2 separate regions of the Homo sapiens genome follow, and region 2 is linked to region 1. Evidence: fine-mapped expression QTL. A gene starts in region 1. The other region holds a variant in brackets. All regions are shown on one strand. Distances are from middle to middle.

Region 1 (10,060 bases):
ACACACCCAGGTATACAAATATCTTTTATACCAAGAGTCCTTGTGAAAGTAAATAGAGGGAACTCCCAGGGATAAGGGAGGGCAAAAAACAGGAAGCACTTGAAGCCAAAATCTGGAGCAACTTTTAAGAAGGAAGAGACGTCCGTCCTATTTTCATATCTCTGCATGGATCTCCCATGGAGAACTTGAGTTAAATGTAATGATTACACGTGGCAGAAAGACAACTCTCTAGCACAGTGTTTCTTTCACATAGGCTGCTACATTGATTCCATAAGCTCAACAATTTTAATAAAAAATATTTCTGCTAAATACTTTATATTCATCATCATAAAAAATGCACAGCCATTTGAAAAAAGGGCAATTACCCTAAATGAATATTGCCAAAGCACAGATCAACTTTATATAGGATTTCTTTCCTTGTTTCTGAAAAATCGCAAACAGAACTGGCAGACTTTATTTAACAAACATTGATTTTGTCCAGGCATGGAGTTTAAATTTTAGTGCATGTGCTGGAGGCAGGGAGAAGTGATGCGAGAAAGTAAAGCAACGACAGGTCATGCGGGGACCAGTGCTACAAAGAAACTAAAGCCAGGGGAAGGGTTGGGGAGGCATGGAGTGGGGTAGGACTACTAAATTTAGACAGAATGGGGTGCTAGAAAAGGTTGACTATGCTGTGGTAACAAATTAGCCCCTGAACCCCAGCGGTGTAGCATAAGTTTATCTCTTACCCACATTCTACGTCCACCACAGGTCACCAGTGGCTGTGCTCTAGTCATTCAGGGACACAGCTGGATGGAGGCTGCACCATCTGAGACACGGGGCACCTCCCTAGTCCTGCCAGAGCCGCAGTAGCAGTGGACCAGAGCTGGAAAGTCACACATGGAGCCTTAAAGTCTTTAAGCAATAAGCCACAACTAGTACCATGGCCCCACCTACTGCAAGAGGGCTGAGAAATGGGAGGAGTTCATAGCATGAGCAATCAATAACTGTCACTGATATCCAGGGAAGTCGTCTCTGACACAGGGAAATCTAAGCAAAGACCAACTAAAGAAAGAAGCTACACAGAAAGTTGGAGACAGGATGATGTCATTTATGATTCCAAGAAATATTCTGTTTGTCTGCCATTTGTTTCCAGTGAACAACCACATCAAATCTTTAATTTAGATATTTTGATAATTAAATGCATTAAAAATCTGTCTCTATTTCTATGCTTAGTTCAAGTAATAGCTTACCTCAGTGATTTTAACAGTCTTACATACCATATAGTATCACTGCCCTTACATTACATCCTTCAATAATTATCCCCTCCCGAGTAAAATCATAATACAAGGGCTGACAAACTCATTCTTGATTGACACACATCTCGACTCCTCACTCATTTCTTCTCCACATATTATTATTTTCTCATTACTTACCTAAAATTTAACCTTATAGATAATGAAAAGGGTTCTGAACATTAAGAAATAATAGAATAGTTATAAATGGAGGAAAAAGTTTGAATAAAAAAGTTTCTTAAAAGGATAGTGTCACTTGCAAAAATAGCTCTTTGAAATACAGGTTCCTATAAACATTTTACACGCATTAAGATATTACTCTTACACATACTGGTAACACAGACACTATACATATTTGTCTCCATTTTAGGAAGAAATGAAGCAAGGCTATTTTTAATAATAAACTTAGAAACAATTCATAACCCCTAGTATTTGCATTAACCTGCAAATACTAGGCAGCACACCACAGCAGAGTGTAACTAAAACCTAAAATAGTGTTTCACTTTCTTCCACACCTACCTCTGTGCGCTCATGCAAGTGTTTTTATTTTGCTTTGCATTAGATGCTTCTGTAATACAGGCATCTGATTCACCCCACATAAAGCTGTTGTAAGTAATCAATGTGAGAAAGTCTACTTATTGTTAAGCATATTTGTATATTTTTTACTAGTTATTTCATACTTGCCCTGAAAGAATACACATTCAAAAAGCTTGAAATTAGGCAATGTCAGTCTCATCAAACAAAACCAGCATTGGAAGCGAATATTAACAAATATCAGAATGAAATTACAAAATATACATCTCCAGCCTCATAAAACATGAATTTTATAAGCACTTTCATAAACATAAGAAAAATAGCTTTGACAATAACTATTTGAAAACATTATTATTAATAATCTTGTATACTGTACATGTGCACTTAAATGTAATAGCACCAACATTCATTATATTATGAAGGGGATACTTTATAAGAATTATAAATTATTTTTACATGATTAAATAATTTTGGCAGAGTAAGTCCGCAGGACTTAAATAACCAGTCAGCCTTAGTATCTACATCTGGACCAGGAAGCCTTTGTGTTACAGACACAGATTCCCTGTGAAGTTCTCCAGGGTGTAAAGAAGGCCCCAGGGAGGTGCCGACGGGATGTGAGGGCTGCCTTTCAGCTCAGGCGAGCCTGCAAGCAACAGGGCAGTTTGGGAAGGGTCACAGGCACAGGAAGGGAGCAGTGGGCAACCATTGATTACATCAAACCAGGATGGTTTCTTCTTTTTAAAGAAACTTTTGTTGAGTGTTTACCCACCCCCATCCACACAAATATGCTCTCTAGGAAATGTGAAAGTATAAGCTTCAGAAAAATGTTTTTCTCATCCTTTAATTTCTGGTTTTATGATCAAATGTTCCGAAGACACTGCTTCTTTTTGCTCAAAATAGTTGACATTGTCATTGCTTCTAGTTTTTCAGCTCCTACTATGCTTACTATGTCCATGGGTGCCATTGACGTCTTTGGCTATTTATCATCTCTAGAAAAGAAAAAAAAACATTAAAATTTTAGGATGTAGGATTCACAATAAATCTCTTACCAAATCCTCCTTAAATCCCTAAACTCTCTACCTGGCTCTGACTCCAGGATCACCCTTTCAGTTCTTTCCATGTTTTTCTTCGGAAAATGTAGTTTCCTAACCTTTCTACCCACCCTTCTCGTCTACTCTTAGGTCTGCAGCCACAGTGATAGTTCTAAGTTGCAAACCTGATCATGTCCTTCCAGTACTTAGTCTTTCAAAAATCTTCCTACTTCCCGCAGAGTGAAGCCTGAACTCTTTAATAGGCATCTAAGGACTTGGACCCGGATCCTGTTAACCTGTTAATTCATCTTTGCCTCTAACTCCCTCCCTTCATCTTTCAAGGCACAGCGCAGGACTTAACTCATTGTGAAAGTACTAAGCCTTGATGTATCTTTAGGAAAAACACACGTATACACACACACGCATGCAAAGAGAGGAAGCATAGCTTAGTGGTTAACCTACATAGACTGCAACTTGCTTAAATAATCCAGTATTTATCTATGTTTTAATAAAATTGTTTTAATAAAAATATATGAAATTCATCTATCTTTTCTCTGGAATGCTTTTGCCTGTTCAAAGATTATACAATGCTCCCGTATGTTACAGAGGAAGCCGTCCCTTCATTTATAAAAGACAGTTAACACATAGCACAAAAACTCTAGAGTAGGATGGATCCGCAACTACTGTACTGGAAATATGCTAAATTAGGGTTCTGATTAGAGTTAATGGAATTAACTTGGGTGAGAGAAAATACTCACCATTAATCTAGGGGTAACAGAGGAGTTAAACTCCAATTCAGAAACAGAGCAGTTCAAAATCAGAATCTAGAGTCAGCCTACATGGGCTTGATCTGGGAATGTGCCCTTTATTAGACGTGTAACCTTGGGCTGCTGCTTGACTGAATAGGTCTTCGATTCCTCATGGAATGAATATAATAAGATCTGATGAATGCAATTAGACAGTGCCTGAAACAGTAGTCTTAAGTAGGTATTTTTGTTGTCCCACTTTTTGAGAAACAAAACCAAAGTCAATTCAATTAAAACTGCAGGTTTCTTGATTTCATCCTAATACTTTGCAAATTAATCACAGAACCCAAGTGAAATTGCCTAGACTCTCAAAGAGTTCGAAAAACATTTCTAATACACTCAAAATTTTCCTAGTTGACGTTCACAGATTATCAAGAGTAAAGCACCTTCATACAGTTTTGATCCTCACACTGTCTAAATCTGAGGAGCTGTCAGGAAAGACATGTAAGGAGAGATCTAAGCTAAAACTCAAACCACACATGAGGCTTTTCAACTGTGACCAACTTGTAGTTAAAATTCAGTTTATGCTTTTCTGTCCACCTAAGAGCAAATTAAACCTTTAAGAAAGCAAAGGATAAAATCATTGTTAGCTCAAGCATTAAAAAAGAAAATAACTGAATATATCTTCTTCAACTCTCCACCCCTAGGGATGAGAACTGCACCTGGCAAACAAGAGGACATTCAACACGTAGTAGCTGTTAAAATGAGTAACTCCCCAAAAGCACTATTAGAAGGCGATATAGTTATTATGACCAAGTTCTGCGGAAACATGGTGTTGAAAACCTTACTGAAGCTAACAATGTGCGTCACCTTCCAGGAGCCACACACACATCCTGAGGGCTTCCCAGATCAACCCCTCATCCCCGCGACAGAGCCACAATCCAGCACCACCTTCCCAGGACTCTCAGCTGAGGCCCCAGCCCCCGCAGGCCCAGGGACGACGCGGCGGGCAGGGCACATGCCTGCGTCGGGCCAGGTGGAAGCTCGGAACGACCACAGGCCCCCGGGGCGCGCCCCTCCCCGTCACGCGCCCCGTTTCCCACGTCCACGCATGCGGTTTCCCCAGGCCTGGAAAGCGTCTAGAGCCAAAGAGCCCAGGGGCTTGCCCGCGCAGAGGCCGACGTGGGGCCCAGGGACGCGCTCCCGGGGTCCTCCCCGCCGAGCCCGCAGCCAGCACCCGGAGCGATCCCCCGAGCCCGAGGGGCGTGGGAACCACGCGCGCAAGCCGGCTGCCCTTCCAGTCCCGGGACGCTTCCCCATCAGGCCAGTGCTAGGCGGGCGGTCGGGACCCGGGGATCGCAGCCTCCGGAGCGCTCACCTGGGTGGCGCAGGCCAAGGACGCCCATGGACAGCGCGACCTCCTCCCATTCCACACACGCGCCCACGACCAAAGTGCGCATGCTCGACACCTGGGACCAATAGGAATCTCGGTCCGAGGGTAGCTGGGGCCAATCACAGCGCGTCTGGCGTGTGGGCGGTGTCTCCTCGTGTTACGCGTGCGCGGAGGGGCTGCGCTACCCGGTCTTGGGTTTTTCATCGGGGAGTGGGAGTGGACTGAAGGCTTGGCCGCTCCGCCTCACTGAGCCGGCTCAGCCAGCGCAGCTGTTCCTGGAACGCCAGTCCCTTAGGATGGGAGGTACTTTCATCTCGAAGAGGGCCGTGGCGTCTGGAGCTTCCCTCCCTTCTGTCCTGCTGAGTCATCCCCGCGTCGCCTGCGAGGCCGCGAGGCGTTTAGGTCTGGGCAGGCCGCCTTTTCCCCATCACGAGATCCTGTTATTTTACTGTTTCATTCTTTTTCTCACTTTCCTATTTGTTAAGCCAAACTTTTTCCTTCCATAGACGTGACCCCTTAGAAGGCTACCCATGCCTCGACATATCTGACATTTGACGTTTTACTCAAATAATTTGCCAAAGTCTATTGCCTTTTTTAACTTCTATTTTCTAAAGCTAGTTTGATACTAATCAACACAGTTTTTTCAACAAGCATGTAAGTGTGCATATTCTAGACATGCGCGGCCTGAGTTTAACCCATCTGCTACTAATTTGTGTTGTCTCGGAATATTATCTAATCCCGTGCTTCAGTTCTCATATATAAACTGAAACTTTATAGATTCACTGGTGGCCTGTAAGCCTGGCCTGTAAGCCTTAAGTTGAAACATGGAGCATATCAGAACTGTGCCTGGCACGTGGTGAAATGTTCAAAAGTTAGTATTGTTATTAGGTGCTGGGCACTTTTCTAGGCTTTGGGATATAGAGATCAATGTCCCTGATGTCCTGGTGTTTATAATTTATTGTGGACACTTTGCTATTTTTTTGGATACAGATCTTTATTTTCATAAACATGGATAATTTTCATTGAGTGCAGTGTGATCTCAATTGATACTTTTGTAGTATTTCATCATTATGCTTATATTCTTTTTAAAATTTAGGTACTGTTGAGGGAAAGTGAGAATGACATGATTTTGATAACATGGTAGAACCTTTTTCATTCATCTGGTGTTGCCACACTGGGGCTCTGGGTGCTTTATGAATCATGTTCACAAGTCATACTTGTGTCTGTCCATGGTTCTTTTCACTACAGCCACCATAGTTCAGGGTGAGATTTTTCACACCGACTGTAAAGATTTATCTGTGGAAAATGGTAATGAGCTTGCCTGGTTGATGTCCTGTTGTTTTCCCAAGTACATACTTGGAAGAGAGTGAACAGAAGACTAAAACGTGGGTCAACAGATGTTTTGCAGTGAGCTAAAAAATAATTGACTTCACTAGAACAACTGCTTGATATTCTACAGCAGTTTTGCAGGTTTCTGAAGTGGAAGAAGCAGATAGTGATGGAATGCTGCTAAAAGAAATATAAGAGAATAATAACACCCTTGGTGCTTGTTAATTTCATTTTGAATTTTTTTTTTTTAAGTTGTCAGTTACATGTTTGGTGACTGCTTTGAAAGTTCTGATTCTGTTGCATGTGGATCCACAAGGTAGCTTAGGAAGCCTGATGGCAGAATACAAATTGTCTTAAAAGAGTTCATAGGTATTCACAATCTTTGTATTGAAGAAAGTATGATGAAACTCCCCAGGTCCAGTTAGGGCAGCACTGGGAATGCAAGGTGAGAAATTGGAAGAATTTACCACACACAAAAAAATGATGTGTCTGTATTAGTCCATTCTTGTATTGCTATAAAGAAATACCTGAGACTGGGTAGTTTATAAAGAAAAGAGGTTTAATTGGCTCACAGTTCTGCAGGCTGTACAAGCATGCTGCTGGCATCTGTTAGACTTCCAGGGGAAGCCTCAGGGAGCTTTTATTCATGGTGGAAGGCCAGCAGGAGGAAGAGAGAAAAGTGGTGGGGAGGTGCCACAATTTACAGCAACCAGATCTTGCAGGAACTTAGTATCAGGAAGTCAGCACCAAGCCTGAGGGATCTGCCTCCACGACCCAAACACCTCCCACCAGCCCCCGCCTCCAACACTGGGGATTAAAATTCAGCATGAGATTTGGTGGGGACATATATTCAAAACGTATCAGTGTCATTTTATGAAATATTCTGGGCTAAAACAGTGGATCTACAAGCAACTTTTAAAAAGAAGATAATTAACATCTCTCAGTTGACAGTTTCTAACTTGAATCCTAAATAGGCCAAGTGTGCAGCAAGCTTGTGGTTTTTGATCAGACACTACCTGTGAGCTCTCTTTTTCTTAGTTCTAATAAGGAAATAGATACTAAGTCTTAGAAATTTTTAAATACTTTGGGCACAATAACATTTTTTTAAACAAAGACCTAGAGCAACATGTTGCTGGACTTTCTGAGCAAAGAAAGTCAAGTGATATAGAAAACTGACTCCTGGGCCAGGGGTGGTGTCTCACGCCTGTAATCCCAGCACTTTGGCAGGCCGAGGTGGGCAGATCACGACATCAGGAGTTCAAGACTAGCCTGGCCAATGTGGTGAAACCCATCTCTACTAAAAATACAAAAATTAGCCGGGCATGGTGGCATGTGCCTGTAGTCCCAGCTACTTGGGAGGCTGAGGCAGCAGAATTGCTTGGACCCGGGAGGCGAAGGTTGCAGTGAGCAGAGATTGTGCCATTATATTCCAGCCTGAGCGATAGAGCAAGACTCCGTCTCAAAAAAAAAAAAAAAAAAAAAAAGAAAGAAAAAAGAAAACTGACTCTTTCAAAATCCATTTTGAATGTAATAGCAAAAAGTTGTTTTCCCCCTTGCAAATTACAGGCATATGTCAGAGATATTGGGGGTTCAGTTCCAGACCACCTCAATAAAGTGAATATCACAATAAAGCATGTCAGATGAAGTCCTAGACAGCATCTCATTCCACATAAGGCTATTTTGCCTACACTGAGAAGCTGTTGTTTAGTGTAGCCACCTTTATCAATGATCTTAGCTGGATCTTCTGGATAACTCGTGGCAGTGTCTACACTAGCACTTGGTGCTTCACATTGCACTTTTATGTATGGAGACAGCTTCTTTCCTTAAACCTCATCAGCCAATGTCTGCCAGCTTTAAACTTTTCTGCAGCTTCCTTATGTCTCTCAGTCATCATAGAAAAGAAGAAAATTAGGGCTTTGTCCTGGATTAGACATTGGCTTAAGGAAATGATATGTCTGGTTTGAATCTCTCCAGACCACTAAAACTTTCCGCAGATGAGCAGAAAGACTGTTTCACTTTCTTATTATCCCTATATTCCCTGAGGTAGCACTTTTAATTTTTTTTCAAGAACGTTTCCTTTGCATTCACAACTTCGCTACCCATTTGGCACAAAAGGCCTAGCTTTCAACCTATCCAGCTTTTGACATGCCTTCCTTGCGAAGCTTAATCATTTCAAGCTTTTGATTTAAAGTGAGAGACTTGCAAGTCTCCCTTTCACTTGAACACCTAGAGGCCACTGTAGGGTTATTAATTGGCCTAGTTTTAACATTGTGTCTCAGGGAACAGGGAGACTTAATGGGAGGGAGAGAGATGGGGAACAGCTGGTTGCTGGTGCAGTCAGAACACACATATTTACCAGTTCAGTTTAAAGTCTTCTATGGGTGTGGCTCTTGGTGCCCCCAAGCAATTATAATAGTAACATCAAAGATCACTCGCCACATATCATCATAACAGATATAATAACAAGAAAAAGTTTGAAATAGTGTGAGGATTACCAAAATGTGACACAGATACACAAACTGAACACATGCTGTTGGAAAAATGGCGCTGATAGACTTGCTCAATGCAAGGCTGCCACAACCCTTCTATATATATATATATATGTATATAAAATACAGTATCTGTGAAACTCAATAAAACAAAATGTACAATAAAACAAGTATGACTGAATAAACTTTTAGTACCTCAGGTTTTCAATTAATAAAATCACCTGGGAAAGTCAATTACTTGCCATGAAAACCTGCATTTTGTTTGGAAAACTAGAAAATACGTGATTCCCTCACTTTTATTCTTTTCATGCATAATATTGTTAAACTCTTAATTCATGTTCACTGATCAGATATAATCATCTGACTTATGCTAAACACATTTAGCTCTTATTTTCTTCATTAGTTTCAAGATGAGCTGGTTATAACTTAGACTAGAATAATTAGTGTTTGAAATTTTGATGTTTCAGAGTCCAGGAATCCTTATACCCAGCAATGTTTTGACTTTCTTTTCCATAATGGTCTAAAAAAAGTCATGTGGTAAAGCGTTTGAATTAGAAGAAAATAGTTAAAGAAACTTAACTATTTTATGGAAAGGGAAGCAGGCAGTTTCCAGAAGAGCAGGATCTTTACTTACCTAACTAAAGAGTTGCAATATAATTTTGGAGATAATATTGATAATAATAACCACAATAATATATGTTAGAATCTTTCATGAAAGAGCAAATGTCTAAATGTCACTTTGGACATTTTCTTAAGAGGGTTAGTTTATAATTTTATATCAAATCAAGTCTACCTAGATACTTCAGATGACTGGATCTCAGTTAAAGGAAATATATACTGAGGATAAATAAAGAAAAATAGATCATATTATTTTGGAGATAAATATTTATAATCATTGAATCATGCAGAAAATTATTTAAACTAGCAACAGAAAATTCTTATATATCAATGTGAAATTTTGGGGGAACATAAAAATACAAATCAGTAAAAAGGAACTTAACATAGATAAGCTTTTCTTAGAGGTGGCAAGGGAAATTGACAAGGGAAACTTCTGATTTTAAGTCACAGAAAGTATGCGAGTTTCATTTGATCCGATATAAATGCTTCATTGTCAGGTTGAGAGACAGGACAGGAATGGCAAGAAAGGCAGGAATGAGGGATCATGGATAGAAAAGGCTCTGAAGTTGGGAAAATTGAGTCTGGGTCGTTTCATCATCAGATAGTTCTGTCAAGAAGGAACAAGAAGAAGGAAAGAAATGGTATT
Region 2 (10,060 bases), 120 kb after region 1:
GAAATTTTCGTGGCCAGTATCTTCAAATATGTTTCCAAGTTTCTTGCTCTCTCTCTATCTCCTTCAGGAATGCCAATGATTCATAAGTTTGTTCTCTTTACATAATCTCCTATTTCTCAGAGGTTTTGTTCATTTTTAAAAATTCTTTTTTTAAATTTTTTGTATGCCTGTGTTGATTTGAAGAAGTGATCTTCAAGTTCTGAGATTCTTTCCTCAGATTGGTCTATTCTATTAATGCTTCCATTTGCACTATGAAATTCCTGTAGTGGGTTTTTCATTTTCAGAAGTTTAGTTTGGTTCTTTCTTAAAATGGCTATGTTGTCTTTCAGCTCTTGCATCATTTTACTATTTTCCTTGGATTGGGTTTCAACCTTTTCCTGTATCTCATTGAGCTTCCTTGACATCCAGATTCTGGATTCTATGTCTGTCATTTCAGCCACTTAAATCTGGTTAAGAACCATTGCTGGGAAGCTAGTGTTATTTGGAGGTAAAAAGTCATTGTTGTTTTTAGAGTTGCCAGAATTCTTGTACTGTGTTTTTTGTTTGTTTTGTTTTGTTTTTCCCCTCATCCATATGGGCTGATGTTCTTTTAACCTTTAAAGTTGCTATCCTTTAAATGGGGCTCTTTGCTTTAATATTATTTGGTGCCCTCTAGGGCTTGGCTGTGGTATAAGCTGCATTTAGTTGATTGGTTTCATTTCTGAATCTTTTCAAGGGAGCAAGGTTCTGGTCAGCGCTCCCAGGCTGCCTGCTCCAACCCTGATGGGGGGCTGGGACCAGGCCTGTTTCTTTGTTCTCTGGCCCTTCAAGGTCAAGCACCTTCTGTGCTGGAGGGGCTGATGTGTTCTCAGTCTGTTGGCATAACATTCCAATGGGAGCTGCCAGCAAAAATGCTTCGGTGGGAAGGTAGTAGGGGGCCCATGGGAGAGCGCACTGTGGTTGGGGGGTATAGGAAAGCGCACATCAGTAGGGTGGCAGGGCAGCCGTGGGTGAGTGCACATTGGCAGAGAAGCATGGGGGTAGCAGGCATGTGTGCACCAACAGGGTGGTGGATGGGCTGTGCATGGTAGTGGAGCATTATAAGAAGGCTGCAAGTGCTCCTGCAGGGGAAGGCTGTAGATGAGTGCACACCAGCAGGGATCTGCCTGCCAAAGCGCTCTGAGGGGAAGGCAGGGGCTGCCAGTGAATGAACTATGGCACAGTAGCTTCTGTCAACTGTTTCAGCAGAGCAGCTGAGGCTGTGCTGAAAAGGGGTGTGGCCAGCTAGGGCTCTTGGGGGAGGCTGGCACACAAGGGATCTTCAGATCAGATTGGCCCCAATCTGTGGGAAGGGCAGCCCTGCTCTTTCCAGGTCTGGCCTCTAACAATGGCTAATGCCACCTACAGGACTATGGTGAGCCTCAGCCAGGAATGAGTCCCAGTGCTCAGCAACCTTGCGCACAGTTCCCACCTTTCTCCCCTTTCAGCCCCAGGGTCTGCATCCTCCCTCTGTCCATTCTCAATGCCTTCTTTCTGAGGATTTGTTCAGAGTGTACCTGTCTACTGGGTGGTTTAGTCTCTCCTGGTGGGAGATGCTCTTTCTGGCTGCGTCTAGTCGGCCATCTTCCAGAGATTATCCTTGAAGATACATGCTAATTATGACAGGTAAACAAAGGGTCTGTATGAAGGGCATTTCAGGGAGAGAAAGGTTTGAGATAATTTGGTATATTAAGTTGACGAAAAGGTTGACAAAATAGAGAAAACAGAATTTGATGTGCACAACTTAAAAAAGAAAATGTGGAACAGGCAATCTGAGTATGGAGTTAATATGATCTTTTCTCCTTTGGCTTTAGGACTTCATCTTTAATTACCTTTCTAACTCTATTTCCGTGGAAATTAGATAAAGGAAGAATTTCAATGACATCAAAAGACAATATTGATTATGGGGAAAAAGACCCTTGACTGGCAAATTTCTGCAGCCTAAGAGAACTAAATAAATGCCTGGCAAGATGCTAGAGCTATGGGCTTCCCAGAGTGTGGTGACTCTTGGTGCTGGCATGTTCTTACAGAGACCTTGGAAGCTGTAACTGTGGAATTGTAAGACATTTGGCTACTGTGCAACATGAGGCTTTTAGGCCAGCGAGGAACCTCCACTCATATATGAATCTCATCTCTCTGCACCTGAGCTCTTACATGAGTCAGGGGTAGAAAGCAGCCAAAAGAATGCCCACCTGACTGCTGAAACAGTTGCAGAGACTGATGCAAGAGCTCCCATAGGTCCCCTGATTCTATCTTGCTTGCTGTCAAGAATTATGAAGTCTCCGAAAATTTCCTCTACTTGCAAACTAAGAAGTTATCCTTTCACAGTTGTGTAGATGCTGGCAGAGGATATGAGAGTTCTAGGTTAGAGACAAAGAGATTCATTTTCATCAAGGCACAGCAGGAAGCATTACCTGCATATTCACACAGGTTTTGAATCCTCCAGCCCCCAAGGGGCATCACAGGTGGGTCTGGGTAGATGCTGTGCATGCAGAGGTGGAGAGTTTGTCTTACAGCTGATAAACCCAGAGCTCAGGAAACATCAATTTTTTAAATAATGGGCAGCAAGCAGATCTGCCCAACTTTTACATTATCTTATTACATTGGTGGCAAAACAACCCCATCTTCTGCTCCAGAGCTAGATACTGTCTCTGTCTATCAATTCTCTTTGCTAGATGTAGTAGTCTGCATCCAGTCATGAGATACAAATCATACCACCGTTAAAAAGGAGATGTTTAATAAAAAGAATTATTAAATTTGATTAAAGGCTAACTATACAACATAAGAAAACTCTATATGGTGCCCTAAGGCTAAGGGAGAGCACCCAAGGAAGAACAAACTCAGAAGGAGTTAGGCCTCACTGAAAAAGGCATAGTTTAACCAGCAGATAGTGGAGAAGTTTTCAGTGTTGCCAGGCTGGAGCTGGTCTGGAGTTGCTTTTGAAAATATCAGAATCCTCTCTGCCATGCAGGAGGGAGTGCAAATGAACAGCAATCTGCACAGGCAGGCAGTGGGATCCTGGGTGCTGGTGGAGGCAGAGAGCCTTCCAATACATGGATTTCACAAGGTGGTGGTGGTGGGAGGAGGGGTTTGCAGGAGGGACAGAAGGTGACATTCAGGTGCAGGTGGCCACATGGAGACTTGCAGAGGGAGTCCTGGCATCAGCACAGTCAGGAGGCCTTGGAATCAGGCAGATGTTGGGGGATTCTGGTTTCTTGGTCAAGATGGTTGTGGAAAGGTTATTACCAGGCCAAGTCTGCAGGATGCAGAAAGACCACATCCTAACTGTGGCTGTGGCAGACCCTCCTGAGGTCCTCACATCTACATCTTCACCTCGCTCCACACTGGAATTGTAGGAAGTCTTTTCCTCTTGCAGAGTCCCAAGTGTCTTCTACTAAAAGCCTCAGAATCACACTGGCTTTCAAGGAGAAAGGTTGAAAAGAATCCCATTGTTTATCCTAGAGCAACATTGCAGAGTGCATTGGAACCGCGTGGCCATCCATGGATAACCAGTGCGTCACACATCGTGCTTGACAAGACAGTCACAACAGAAGGTGTGTGTGCAAGACGTGCAGAAACTCCTTGGAGAGCTGTCTCTTCACACTCATGCTGTGGCTTCTGCCCTGTGTAAGCACAGTGGGTGCCAAGCATGGCTCGTGGTGATTCTGCACATCTTAATTTAGTTGGACCTAAGAATATCCTTCAGTGGGTATTACAAGTACATGGTGGCAGACCACAAAGAGATACAGATGCAATGCTAAGTCTTTTATCCTGAAGATGATCAAGGGTCAGTTTACTACAGTTCCCTAAGGAATAGTGGTTACTAGCTTAAGTGTGATGCTTTTTACAATTGAAAATGAAGTGTAGGTATAATACTAGCAAAGAGTAATAATATAATATCTTTTATTTCCACTATGTGCCAGGTAGTATATTTGGATTTTTGTTTCTTCGTTTTTGGTAGTTGGCCCTCACAGACACATGTAGCCATATTTTTGCAGAGAAGGAAATAGAGGCTCAGCAAGCAAGTCAGGAACTTTTCAGCATCACACAGTTAGGAAAAGAAGGAGATGGAAGCAGGGCATTCTCTGTGTCCTTCCACCTGAGCAGCTAACACTGATGGCCTTTCCACAGTGCAGGCTACATAAAGTGTGTACATTTCAAACTTTCAAAAAATAGAAGCAGGAAGAACGCAGAATGAAAATCGCTGGGGCTCTTGGCCTATGTTGATTAGTACCCCTGACTGTTGATCACTATTCCTTTCCATGTTTGCCTGGAAGATGGCCTGACAGCACCTGTCTACAGTACAGTATTGAGGCACACAGGACCTTGGAAATAAAAGGGAATATTACAAATACTGCAGA[G/T]ACACAAGGATTAGTTGTTTGTTTGTTTAAGGTAAGCAGAGATGAGCAATTTGCTTTTCGGATTCCAAAAAAGATTTGTTCTCCTTCTTTAAAGCAGCAATTCACGCCAGAGACCTAAGTGAGCTGTCATTTTCTCTGAGTGTTTTCTTTTTTTCATAGGCACCAGTCTACATCTCCTGGCTGACTAACGCATCAAACAAAGCAGGCTTAGGTAAATTGAAAGAGAGAAGCTCTCCTGAGTCCAACTTATGTTTTTCTGGCAACAACTGAGCTCACTCGATTAATACTTAAGGAGAGCACTGCATTGAGGCACAAGTGCTAGCCCAGCCAGGGATGCTCTCAGCCATGGCTGCACACGACAATCATCAGAAAGCCCTTTCACACTGGGCAGGGTGTGCTGCTTTTTAAGTATTCCTTGGCGATTTTCACCTGCAGTCCAGGTTAGCCATTGTATAATTTGAACAGCACTGAAACTCAGGAAAAATTAACCTTCAGTATCTAATATAATCGGGTTTATTCAAGAGTATCCTTTTCTGTAAAATAGAAAATTAATAAATTATCTAGCTTTGAAATCAGGTTATCCTAAATAATAGACCTGCAATTTAAGGAATTCTGAGTTTTCCAAATTTCTTGATGACTATGATGTTTGGTCATTTGCAAATAGCTAGGCCTTTTAGAAAAATCTGAACTGTCTCTTTGGAAATTGTCAGTATCAAAATGGAGTCATTTATGTTAAAAAAAAATAAAGAAAAAAAAAAACTCTAACAAATAGAGCTGAGGAAAGCTATCAAGAAAGAGTTCTCATGTTTGTATGCCTGACAACAAAAACTATCACAAAACATTGCAAAAACCACATCCTTGCACAAACGCTTTCAGGAACTTACACCAAAAAATACTTCTGCGAGGACATCACCCCAAAAACTGCTTGTCCAACCTTGGAGTAGCATCATATTTGTTATTGATCAACATAGCCAAGAATAATCATTTTAAAATAATTATGTAATACTCTTCATTTTTTCTTTAAAAGCATAGCCTTCCTTTACCTCCCTGAATGTGTACATAGTTTACTAAGGCACACATGTGCCCTTTGCAATGCCCATGCCTCAATAAATATCTTTTACTTTTAGAGAGCCTCTCTCTGTTTGCTATTTAGGTTGACACATCCATGTTCAATATTTTTAAGTTAATGTTAATTGTGTCAACATGGATGTTGTGATCACATAGAGATTAATTATGTTCAGATAATGAGCTCAGCTTCTACCACCAACTTCAGCACTCTTCTACTACCTCCTGCTGGAGATGGCCATGCAAAGTGTTGCTGTTCTTAAAAGTCTGGCATGCAAAGAGAGAAATAAATAAATAGAATTGTGATTTAAAGGTTTTTTTGTTTGTCTTTTAAGGAACAACTTTCTGGGAGCCAAACATGCCATAGCAAATCCAACAGATCATTCAGCAAATTTAACTTCATGATCTTCAATGTATTACTTCGGTAGATTTAACCACATTTCCCAAAGACTGACAGGTTCATTTTTTGATTCATGATCTACTTATGCCAAGACCTTCTGCTTTTTTTTTTTGAGACGGAGTCTTGCTCTGTCGCCCAGGCTGGAGTGCAGTGATGTGATCTCGGCTCACTGCAAGCTCCACCTCCCAGGTTCATGCCATTCTCCTGCCTCAGCCTCCCGAATAGCTGGGACTACAAGGCGCCCGCCACCACGCCTGGCTAATTTTTTGTATTTTTAGTACAGACGGGGTTTCACTGTGTTAACCAGGATGGTTTCGATCTCCTGACCTCGTGATCCACCCGCCTCGGCCTCCCAAAGTGCTGGGATTACGGGCGTGAGCCACCGTGCCCGGCCTACTTATGCCAAGACCTAAAAGAAACTTTTAAATCCCTATTTATTTCATTAATTGTCTTGTAAGACAATTCATGAAATTGACCTGTAAGACAATGGGTCAATGAAATTTGAAGTAAATTTGTACTCAATCTGTTAACCACATCTTACAAGGCTCATCCATCCCAATGCCTTGAAGAAATCTCTTGTCACAGACTGCCTGCTAATCGTGGGGCATGAAACAACTTGTAAGAATATGGCAACATAGAGATTTGTGGAAATTAAATGCCTGCTCTTTTAAAAACCTGACTGTAATTAGTTTGTCTAATTGTTTAAGGTCAGAATATCTTTGATATGCCAGCTCCCAGTAATTTCACTTCAGGAATAAAGAAAAGAAAAAAGAAACCTGAGATAAAGATACTGATTCCTGAAGCAAAATGCTTGTCATATATTAGAAACGGAAAAATCTTCAATTAATAAATAACCAACCATTGAAACTTACATCATGAAAAAGTTGTGTTTGTTTTATAAAAATTGAAATGTTGGATAACTATTGAAAATTAAGAGAATAATTTTGATTGAGATGTTGAAAATAATTATTTAATACTATAATTATTCATCAATTCTATAAATATTACCCTTTTTTCCAGGGAGTAACATCCAGAAGAAACAATTAGTAATATTTCTTTACTGCTTGAGTACATTTTATCATCAGATGGCCAATCATATAACTGGGTTTATTCAAGAAATTTTTTTCTGTAAAATATAAAGTGAATCACCTATCTAATTTTGATAACAGGTAATCTTAAATAATAGACCTCATTACAGAGTCATGTCCATGCAAGTACTTGTTATACAAGCAATGTGTTTACACCCTTCACTTTGGACTGCATGAACTCAGGTATCTTCATCTGTGTGCAACAGAAAGCCCAGGGAGCAGCAGCTTAAACCATAAGAGCATATACTGTTTACCTGAAGAGAGAGAAGGTGGTTCCAAGTGCTCTCCAAAGCCCCATGATGTCAGGACATGGGTCAGCATCTCTACAGCTCTCCTGCTTCTCTCTCATGGGTGCAAAGTGGCTTCTCACATCTCAACATGCCAAGGCAGGAAGCTGGGATACAAGGGCAAGGAGAGAGCTCCTCTCTTCTACAGAGAAGGAAACATCTTTCCCACAAGCCTGGCACCCTGCCCTTCACTCTCCATGTGATGGGACCACAAGGCCCCTCCCAGCTGCAGAATGTTGGGGAAGAGGGTGCCTGATTCTCTGGCTTCTGTAGCTGGAGGCAGGCACTGGAGAAAGAGATGGGAATGGCCAATGGGTAGCCATTTCTATCGTGATACAGTCAAATAACAGGACTTTTAAAAGGAAATAATTTCTTGAGAATAGCAGAGCACACCAGTATGCTCGAATAAAAATGGTAACTGGATTTCCTGAACTGTTAAATTAAACATGCATTGCTGATTTCCTCTTTCTGCAGCTGCTCTGCTTCTAACTATCCGTCTCTTCTGTCTGTGGCTCAAGATCCATCATCTTTAGAATATAAAATCCTTCTTATGGTTTTATTTGTCCTTTGTTTGCTGGTCCCTCCTTGCCTGCCTTCAATATTTTTGGCTTTCTTCCCTTGCTTTGCTGGGATGTGTGATTTATCCTATCACCGGAGATCTCTGTGAGAAAGTACTGGATGTTTATTTGCCTGCATATGTCAGAAGCTCCAGGCAGGGCTGCCTCGTCCCACAACTTCAGGGGAGCCATTCATTTCCATGTGCCTTGCACAGCCTGTGCGGCCACAATCGGCAGCACTGAGTTTGGGCAACAGAGAAATGGTTTCACTGGAAAAGACACAGTTTTAAATTCCCCTTTCCAAAATAAATCTATTTTCAGCATTATCACTCCCACTGCCTCTACCTTGGCTTGTCTTTTTGAGTCTTCTTTGAATATCACGGTCACCTCCTAAGTGGCCTCCCTGTAATCAGTCTTTCTTCCCTTCATTCTACCCTACAAATATCTATTGCCTCCCACTATACGCAAGACATCAAAACTGCTTGGTGCAGCCTTCAGGTTACTTTTTTGGCTTCTGGCTTGAATTATTTCTCTGTGCCCATGAGCCATCTCACTGTCACTCCAGTGAGCTCCTCAGCTCCTCACTCCCTCCCTACCCACTCTGCCTGCCCATTTCTTTACCCACTCCTGCTGCTGGGATAATGTCCTGCCCAGTTTTCTTCTGAACTGTCCATCTCTAGTGAGCAGTGGGCATTTCCTCCTGGGGAGCATACACCTGAATTCTACAAGCCAGCAGCACCCCAATTTTGCTTTGGAGAATTTCACAGCTCCAAACATGTGCAGTCTTGGTAAAAAGCCATCAAAGTGGGATGTCCTTTCTTGCCAAGGGTGAGACTCAAACCAGCCCAACCACATGCTCTCCTTGCACAGAGAGATTCGGGCCCCAACCCTGTGAAGCGGATGCACCTGGTGACTGGGCTCTGAGGACAAACTGTCCACCTTGTGTTCACCGCTGACCGCCAAGCCCTGCCGCGGGCTCCCCAGGTCCCTCTGGCACATGGCTGCTTGGCGTCATCTCCTGCATTGCTCAAGCCATTCCTGTGCATTGCTTTTTGCACCACTTTTTTCTTGGCCAGTGCAGGAGTTTGTGCATTCCAATAAAATCCCACACTGGCGTCCATCTGAAGGCCCAGGAGGACGGCATCTTCTAGGGAGACAGAGCAGTAATGAAGGAGCCTCATCCCCAGGTGCTTAATGCAGCAGAGTCTAACCTTCAACCCAGGACTACTGCACTGCAGACTCTCTTAGAAGCCAGAAATCAGCTTTCTTACTGGAGCTGCCATTACGGTGGATCTCTGCTCTTGCAGAGAAATCTAATCATGCAGGTGGTGGGGTAAGGGGATAGGCTACGAGGAAGATTGGAAACAAATCGTGGGGTAAAGGTGGTTGTGGGCCACCTTTGGAGTCTGGATCTCCGTGGGTCAGCAGCTGCTGTTTTCCAGCAAAAGGAAGCAAGGTTTGCTTTAGAAGGAGAGTGGCCTCTCCTACATAGAGGAAGAGGGTCTGGAGGCAGACGCGCTGGCGGCAGCAAAATGAAGAAGGAGGCGTGCCTGAAGGAAGTGGACTTGGGGTCAAGATGACATTAGATGGGTCACATTCAAGAGTGTGCTCCAAGGTAGACTCAGGGTTTTCTAGAATTAAAGAGAAACAAAGGGCGAAATACAAAGGCAGTGCCCCTTTTGAGGCCTGGTCTTCAGCAGAATTCAGGGGAAAGCTTCATGGGGAGAAGAGAGCAGGCGTGGGGAGAGGAGGCTACCTGTGAGGCTTCTCTCCATGCCCTTCCTGCCACAGAGAAGTTGCTCCCCCTCTAAGACCTTGGCTGCCCTCCCGGATGAGGGAGCAGCTGCCCTGGCTCGGCTTTCAGGGACCAAGTCCAGTGTTCTAACTGGGCTGGGCTCCACTCAGGATGCCAGATCCAAGGAGCATGAGTCCATAGAGGAGGGGGCTCTGAAGCCAGGGAGGCAGTGCTGGACCAGGCCACTCCTGAGCAAGGAAAGGCTGAGGAGGAACTGGCCAGCTGCAGGTGCCCACAGGGCGGTACTCAGGGAGGTGCAGCTGCAGGCCTCTGCAGGAAGAGCTGGACTCCAGGGCTCCTTCTTGATTGGGGTTCAACCCTAGAGCAGGTTGGAAATCTGGATCTCCAGCCTAGGAGCAGGGCTATCAAGGGCTGAGCAGGACAATAAGTGAGTGGCTGCCTGGTGGGGGTGCCCTCAGGTGTATCATGTGCCCACCAGGAAACTACAGTGTAAGCTCAGCCGATCATTTGGGTGAATTGGAAAATGAC

Evidence for each region.
Region 2: its variant is fine-mapped to the expression of LINC02226 in testis (GTEx, PIP above 0.99).

What each region holds. Positions count from the first base shown.
Region 1 is chr5:8,452,670-8,462,729 of GRCh38, reverse strand. It overlaps LINC02226 (long intergenic non-protein coding RNA 2226), which reads left to right and starts at 5,166. Exons shown (of 6, transcript NR_039984.1): 1 at 5,166-5,281. It overlaps MIR4458HG (MIR4458 host gene), which reads right to left and starts at 5,043. Exons shown (of 2, transcript NR_039989.1): 1 at 4,964-5,043; 2 at 1-2,797. It overlaps MIR4458 (microRNA 4458), which reads right to left and starts at 1,805; the gene lies at 1,731-1,805. It also overlaps the pseudogene LOC100419318. RefSeq lists silencers at 4,714-4,773, 4,784-4,833 and an enhancer at 5,354-5,453.
Region 2 is chr5:8,331,531-8,341,590 of GRCh38, reverse strand. LINC02226 (long intergenic non-protein coding RNA 2226) reads left to right here. Exons shown (of 6, transcript NR_039984.1): 4 at 4,296-4,410; 5 at 6,865-7,013; 6 at 7,139-8,108. Among named protein-coding and RNA genes, the nearest start is that of LINC02226, 120 kb to the left of the region's middle. The variant G/T (reference allele first, on the strand shown) is at 4,380.